Homo sapiens: one gene and its partner. The protein of the gene in region 1 interacts with the protein of each later gene in a biochemical or structural test. Each region holds a gene or a part of one and is shown on either strand. Other genes may lie near its edges.

Region 1 (3,500 bases):
GGCCCCTGGGGAACTCTTTGCCCCATGGGGAGGGTGAAGCCAGAGGAGGTCCAGAGAGGGACCCCTAAGTGTAAGTCTCAGACTAAGGGCTCCATTCCCCAGGCCTAAGGGCAGTACTGATGTCTTCTATCATTCCAAGTTTTTGTTTTGTTTTGTTTTGTCTGTTTTGTTTTGTTTTGTTTTGTAAGACAGGATCTCACTCTGTCACCCAGGCTGGAGTGCAGTGGGGCGATCTTGGCTCACTGCAGCCTTGACCTCCCGGGCTCAAGCCATCCATCCTCCCACCTCAGCCTTCCGAGAAGCTGGGATGACAGGCATGTGTCACCACACCCAGCTAAGTTTTTTATTTTATTTTTTGTGGAGATGGGGTCTCACCATGTTGCCCAGGGTGGCCTCAAACTCCTGGACTCAAGTGATCCTCCCACTTTGGCCTTCCAACCAGGTTTTTATTTTATTTGTATTTATTTGGCATTATTATTATTATTATTATTATTATTATTAGAAACAGGGTCTTGCTCGGTCACCCAGGTTGGAGTGCAGTGGCACAATCTCAGCTCACTGCAACCTCCGCCTCCCAGGTTCAAGCAATTCTCCTACCTCAGCCTCCCAAGTAGCTGAGACTAACAGGCACCCGCCATCATGCCTGGCTAATTTTTGTATTTTTAGTAGAGATGGGGTTTCACCATATTGGCCAGGCTGGTCTCGAATTCCTGACCTCAGGTGATCTGCCCGCCTTGGCCTTGCAAAGTGCTGGGAATACAGGTGTGAGCCACCAGGTTTTTAGATGGCAAAAATGACACAGAGAGCGTAGGGAACCTGCCTAATGTCACACAGCAATTGAATCAGAGGCAGGCCAGGAACAGGCATGGGTCTCCTGCCTCCAGTCCACACTTTTCCATGTTTCTGTCTACCCTATTCCCCACCCCAGTCCCACCCATGTGTGCACACACCTACACACCTCAGTGTCTCCTCCTCTCCTCTTCCTGGGCGACTCTCTGGCACTCTTACCCATTCCCTGGAATGAAATCTGGCTAAGAAACAAGAATCATTTGGAGAAGTCAGCCCTGGCAACTTAGAATTACTATAAGCAACAGAAAAAAAAAAAGTAATATTGAGCTTGGAAGGTGTTCAAAATATTCTCCTGAATGGCATCTTCCCAGTGCCCTGGCCAGAGGCCCCAAGATCAACTGCCTGCCGGCTCCCCCATCCTCCCCATCTGACTTGGTCCCCATGCCCTGTGGATTCTGCCCAGTTCACTCCTGTCTACCTCAGACTCCAGCCCCTTTGTCTTAGCAGCAGAGGTAGTTTCCTCCCTTGCCCCCTAATCCATTCCCCGCCCGACAGCATGAAACTCTCTCCAGCCTCCCAATCTATCTTCCTAGCTTGAAGCCCTCTTTGGATTCCCTGCCCTCAAAACGGAACCCCACACCTGAGTTGGGCCCCTGAGGGCTGATTACCCAGTCCTGCTTCCTTTCAGCCGCTCCCTCCTGGTCTACCTGAATATATTACAGTGCGTGGGAAAAATAGGGCCGTGCCCTCTCTCTCACTCTCCTGGGGTGCTATTGCATATGCTGTTCTCTCGCCTGGAAGCCTCTTTTTTTTTTTTTTTTTTTTTTTTTTCTGTACAGACAGGGTCTTGTTATGTTACCCAGGCTGGTCTCAAACTTCTGGCCTCAAGCCAGGTCTCAAACTCCTGGCCTCAAGCTGGGGCTTGAACTCCTGGCCCCAAGCGATCCTCCCACCTCAGCCTCCCAAAGTATTGGGATTACAGGATTCCAGGTGGCTGGCCCCTGGAAAGCTCTTCACCCTGCCGTTGTCTTCCTCTTTCACTGGGTCTTTCCTCCAAGTGTCACATCAGCCAACACCTCCTCTGGGATGCCTTCTCTGATGACCCTCTCCTGCCATGACCTGGCCCTCCCTGTGTGGGGTGGGGCTTTGTTTTCTCCCAGATGGGAAGCTGTAGAGGAAGAAAGAAGCCCGTTGCCTTGGGCTCAGAGCTCCTGGCAGAGGGCGGCTCCAACCATGGTTAATATTAACAACGTATCTAGTCATGACTGTGTTATTCTTTAATCACTCTGTCTCATGTGCCTCTCTTCTTAGGTCAGGGAAAGGAGGCCACTAGCCAGGGTGGGGAGAAAAATCTCAGCGGGTGAATGCACCCTCACCCCCAACCTGGGTCCCCATTTCAAAGGAATGCAATGCTGTAGCACATAAAGCACCCAGCACATGGCACGTGCTCAGGAACTGGGACCTGCCAATGGGCACCCCCTGTTAGGTCCTTCCACAGCCAGGATCTCAGGGCATTCCCTCAGCAGCCCTAGGAGGCAGCTGCTGGCCTGTGTCCTATTTCACTGGTGGGCAAACTGAGGTTCAGAACAAGGAAATAATTTAGTGGCTGAGTTGGGGTTCCTTCTCATCAAGATGCTGGTGATAAGAAATAAGGATCCATAGCTGGGCATGGTGGTGCACACATGTAGTCCCAGCTACTTCGGAGATTGAGGTGGGAGGACTGCTTGAGCTCAGGAATTTGAGGCTGCAATGAGCTATGATCGTACCACTGCACTCCAGCCTGGGCAACACGGCAAGACCCGGCTGGAAGGAAGGAAGGAAGGAATCAAGGAAGGAAGGAAGGAAAGAAGGAGGGAAACAGAAAGAGGATCCAGATGTAGCTGCATAGTGAATAACTTTGGAAATGTCTATGATATGTTAGGTGAATAGAGAAGCTATCAAAGGGCTGATAACCCAGTGTGCATGTGAGCGCCTGAGAGGCATGTGATTTCACCTTTCTGAGTCTCAGTTTCTTCCCTGTAACATGGAGAAACTGATCACTCTGATTTCACACAGCCATGCAAGAATCGATCCAAAGGCTGTAGATTTTCTTAAACAGCTTTACTGAGGTATAATTTACATGCCATACCATTCACCCATTTTAAAGGCACAATTCAATGATCTTTGGTATATTCACAGAGTGGTGCAACCATCATCACTATCTAATTTTAGGATATTTCCGTCACCCTAAAAAGAAATCTTGTGCTGATGTAGATTTTCAAGTCCCTGGCAGAGTCCCTGGCTGACAGTCAGCAATTCATCAGTGTTTAGCCATGATGATGATGATGAATGATAAAATGTTTACAGTGGCTCCCATCAGGTGTTGGGATGACGATTGGTTTTTATTTTTTAAATATTTCACGTATTTTCTGGATCTTTTTGTTTGTTTGTTTGAGATAGAGTCTCACTCTGTCATCCAGGCTGGAGTACAGCGGCAGGATCTCAGCTCACTGCAACCTCCACCTCCCGGGTTCAAGCGATTCTCCTGCCTCAGTCTCCCGAGTAGCTGGGACTACAGGCGCACGCCACCACACCCTGCTAATTTTTGTATCTTTAGTAGAGATGGGGTTTCACCATGTTGGCCAGGCTGGTCTCAAACTCCTGACCTCAGGCGATCCACCCACCTCGGCCTCCCAAAGTGTTGGGATTACAGGAGTGAGCCACCGCACCTT
Region 2 (4,022 bases), on another chromosome or scaffold:
CACCACTGTACTCCAGCCTGGGCAACAGAGCAAGACTCTGCCTCAAAACAAAAACAAACAAACAAACAAAAAAAAAACCTTGAAGACAAATATTTAGGAATATAGTTAATATGTTACCAAAGAGATTTGAGATGGTAAAAACTACTTTAAGTCCGGGCATGGTGGCTCACGCCTCTAATCCCAGCATTTTGGGAGGCCGAGGTGGGCGGATCACCTGAGGTTGGGAGTTGAGACCAGCCTGACCAACATGGAGAAACCCTGTCTCTACTAAAAATACAAAATTAGCCAGGTGTGGTGGCGCACACCTGTAATCCCAGCTACTCGGGAGGCTGAGGCAGGAGAATTGCTTGAACCTGGAAGGTGGAGGTCATGGTGAGCCGAGATCATGCCATTGTACTCCAGCCTGGGCAACAAGAGCGAAACTCTGTCTCAAAAAAAAATTGCTTGAAGTACTGAAGACCAAATTTCTTGAGAAATTCTAAATCCATATATATGGGATTGTTTAATCCCTTGTAGAAAAAACTGGATGGGGTTTGATAGTTTTGTAGGGATCTATAAGTGGCCTGAGGGTGAAAAAGACATGCCCACCTGGGGAGCTGACAGGTGTTCTAATTGTACATTATTTTTAATAAGATGCTACTAAGTACTACTAAGTACCTGTTTATGTTCTTTATGTATTCATTGCCTTACCCTTAATGTCTGTGTGTTAGAAAGAATTAAAGAGAAAAATTTATAATTTTTGTTTTGAGATGGAGTCTCACTCTGTCACCCAGGCTGGAGTGCAGTGGCACAATCTCTGCTCACTGCAACCTCTGCCTCCCAGGTTCAAGCGATTCTCCTGCCTCAGCCTCCCAAGGAGCTGGGACTACAGGCATGCACCACCATACCTGCCTAATTTTTGTATTTTTAGTAGAGACGGGGTTTTGCCAGGCTGGTCTCAAACTTCTGACCTCAAGTGGTCTGCCCACCTTGGCCTCCCAAAGTGCTGGGATTATGGGCATGAGCCACCGTTCCCAACCAAGAGAAAAATTCTTTGGAAGATAAAAATGGGGGCTGTGTGCGGTGGCTGACTCCTGTAATCCCAACTTCTTGGGAGGCTGAGGCTGCAGTGAGCTGAGATTGCGCCACTGCACTCCAGCCTGGGTGACAGAGCAAGACTCCGTCTCAAAAAAAAAAAAATGGGTATTACCTAGTTATGATTAAAGGTTTATGAGTGTATGAAAGTTATTCCACCTCAGATTTATGTAACAACTAACTCTGGAGTTAAATTCAAGCTATGTAGACATGTACACATAATAAATGTTACCAGGTAAACTTCACGGCTGGTTTCTAATGCACACATCATATCAGTGTGCAGCTTAGCATTTATCACCTCAAGGAGGTCAAGTGAGATTAGTGTATTTTACATACTCCTTGATGTGGGAATTGAAGGTATCTAGTGAGAAGTCTTGTGGAGTATTTAAGTAGAGGCTAGTGATGGGTTAGTAGAATACTGTTGTAGATCTGTATGGGTTTAGCTTGTGTACTAGAAACGAAGTAGGTGGTTCAGGACACAACAAAGTCAGCCTTAAGAGTGACTTGGATAATCACAAATGTGGGATGCTGTCCAGCTGAGCAATGTGCCTTTCTCGTCCCTACAGAAGGAGAGGACAGAGCGGCTTGTCATCTCCCCCTTAAATCAGTTACTGAGCATGTTTACAGGGCCCCATAAGCTGGTACAGAAACGCTTTGACAAGCTCCTGGACTTCTATAACTGTACAGAACGGGCAGAAAAGCTAAAGGACAAGAAGACCCTGGAGGAGCTGCAGTCGGCCCGGAACAACTATGAGGCCCTGAATGCACAGCTGCTGGATGAGCTGCCCAAGTTCCACCAGTACGCCCAGGGCCTCTTCACCAACTGTGTCCACGGCTATGCTGAAGCCCACTGTGACTTTGTGCACCAGGCTCTGGAGCAATTAAAGCCACTGCTTTCGGTGAGTTTCTTACCTGTTCAGTGGGATGGTCATCTATAGCCTTTGCCTGGTATTTTTCTGGGAAAAATGGTAGCATGGTTTGAAAAATTATCTGAATTAGATAAACTGAATGTGTCGCTAGTTCATCCCTCAGGAAATCTTAATCCCTTGATGGTGTCATGAAGCCTGTGGCTTCTGAAACATCTTTTCCCTCTTGAGCAGTTCCCAGAAGAGCCAGCCAACCTGGCCCGCAGGCAGTGCCCTGGAGAACTTGTGTCTTGCATCAGGCTGCTGTGTCGGTAGCTCAGAGAATGAGCTGCAGCTGAACTTTAGCTTCCAGTGGTTCTAAGGAGACTGTCAATCCGGGATCTTTCATCATGTTTTCTTCTTTTCTCTGGGATCTTTTATCGTGTTTTCTTCTTTTCTCTATCTCTGCTCTTCCCATGGACCCCAGTTACTCAAAGTGGCTGGCAGAGAGGGAAACCTTATTGCCATCTTCCACGAAGAGCACAGCAGAGTTCTGCAGCAACTCCAGGTTTTTACCTTCTTCCCGGAGTCTCTTCCAGCTACCAAGAAGCCATTTGAGAGGAAAACCATTGACCGCCAGTCTGCTCGAAAGCCACTCCTGGGCCTGGTGAGTAGGGAACTGAGAGCAGCAGCCCCGCCTCGGGGTAAAGAGGGGGAACCCTGCAGCCAGGCCCCCAGGCCCAGATCCCACTATTGGAGTTTCTGTATTTCATAATAAATGGAGAATAGTGTTGCATTCTCACCCATCATGGGCTCATGCATTCGCCATTTTTTTTTTTGAGACAGAGTCTCATCTCATTCTGTTGCCAGGCTGGAGTGCAGTGGTGTGATCTTGGCTCACTACAACCTGCGCCTTCTGGGTTCAAGTGAATTCTCCTGCTTCAGCCTCCCAAGTAGCTGGGACTACAGGCACACGCCACTACGCCCAGCTAATTTTTCTATTTTTTAGTAGAGATGGGGTTTTACCATGTTGGCCAGGGTGGTCTCGATCTCTTGACCTTGTGATCTGTCCGCCTCAGCCTCCCAAAGTGCTGGGATTACAGGCATGAGCCACCATCCCCAGGCTTTTTTTGTGGGGGGGAGGGGATTAACCCAGTATTAATTCATTGGTTCATTAATTCAGGAAACTGATTTAAGGGTATATTAATTCTGCCAGGCCTATTTTTTATGATGTATTCATAAAAGTAATACAGCTAAACAGTTAATGGTTGGCTGCCTTTTTTACCTGGAGTTAGTCTTTTTTAACCTCAGTTCTTCCATATTTTAAAAATTAGCATAAGGCACACCAGCTAGAGGACTGCTGATACATCTTTGCTTACAATATTTTTGCCCCATATGATCCCATAGACATTAATTTATATTACCTTAAAAGGGAGAATTATGATTTTTTGAGACAGAGCCTTGCTCTGTCACCCAGGCTGGAATGCAGTGGTCTGATCTTGGCTCACTGCATCCTCCACCCTCCCAGGTTCAAGTGATTCTCCTGCCTCAGCCTCTTGAGTAGCTGGGATTACAGGCATGCGTTACCATGCCTGTATTGTATTTTTAGTAGAGACAGGGTTTCGCTATGTTGACCAGACTGGTCTCCAAGTCCTGGCCTCAAGTGATCTGCCCACCTTGGCCTCCCAAAGTGCTGGGATTACAGGTGTGAGCAACCATGCCCAGCCTGAATTTATTATTACCTTTTTTCTTATGACTTCCTTGCTTTCACAGGTGGGGAAGTCAAGATAGATGAACCTAACCGAGAATGTCCCTAACAAAATACAAGAAGACCTACTAATATCACTTAGATATTTTGATTTTTTTTAAGTGGCATTTTAATCACGTTTGTCACAAGAAAACAAATGTAAGAATAGGTGTGTGTTAAATTTTCTTAACTATAAAGGCATCAAACATTGCCTAAGGGCTCTTGATTTTTACCTAGCCACATGGGCTGGCTTCATCACAAAAACATCTGATGGGAGTGAGATGGGCAGTGACTGACTGTCCCTGCCTCATTTCTGAGACTGGCCACATGTTGGGATGAAATATGGCTGCTGGGGT

The links.
Region 2: the proteins of DNM1 (region 1) and DNMBP form a complex in vitro, tested with the Homo sapiens proteins (one study listed by BioGRID).

What each region holds. Positions count from the first base shown.
Region 1 is NC_000009.12:128,209,879-128,213,378, forward strand, and holds part of DNM1 (dynamin-1), read left to right. Parts: intron 1-3,500. UniProt on the Homo sapiens protein: Catalyzes the hydrolysis of GTP and utilizes this energy to mediate vesicle scission and participates in many forms of endocytosis, such as clathrin-mediated endocytosis or synaptic vesicle endocytosis as well as rapid endocytosis (RE).
Region 2 is NC_000010.11:99,884,251-99,888,272, reverse strand, and holds part of DNMBP (dynamin-binding protein), read left to right. Parts: intron 1-1,640; coding exon 1,641-1,973; intron 1,974-2,406; coding exon 2,407-2,586; intron 2,587-4,022. UniProt on the Homo sapiens protein: Plays a critical role as a guanine nucleotide exchange factor (GEF) for CDC42 in several intracellular processes associated with the actin and microtubule cytoskeleton.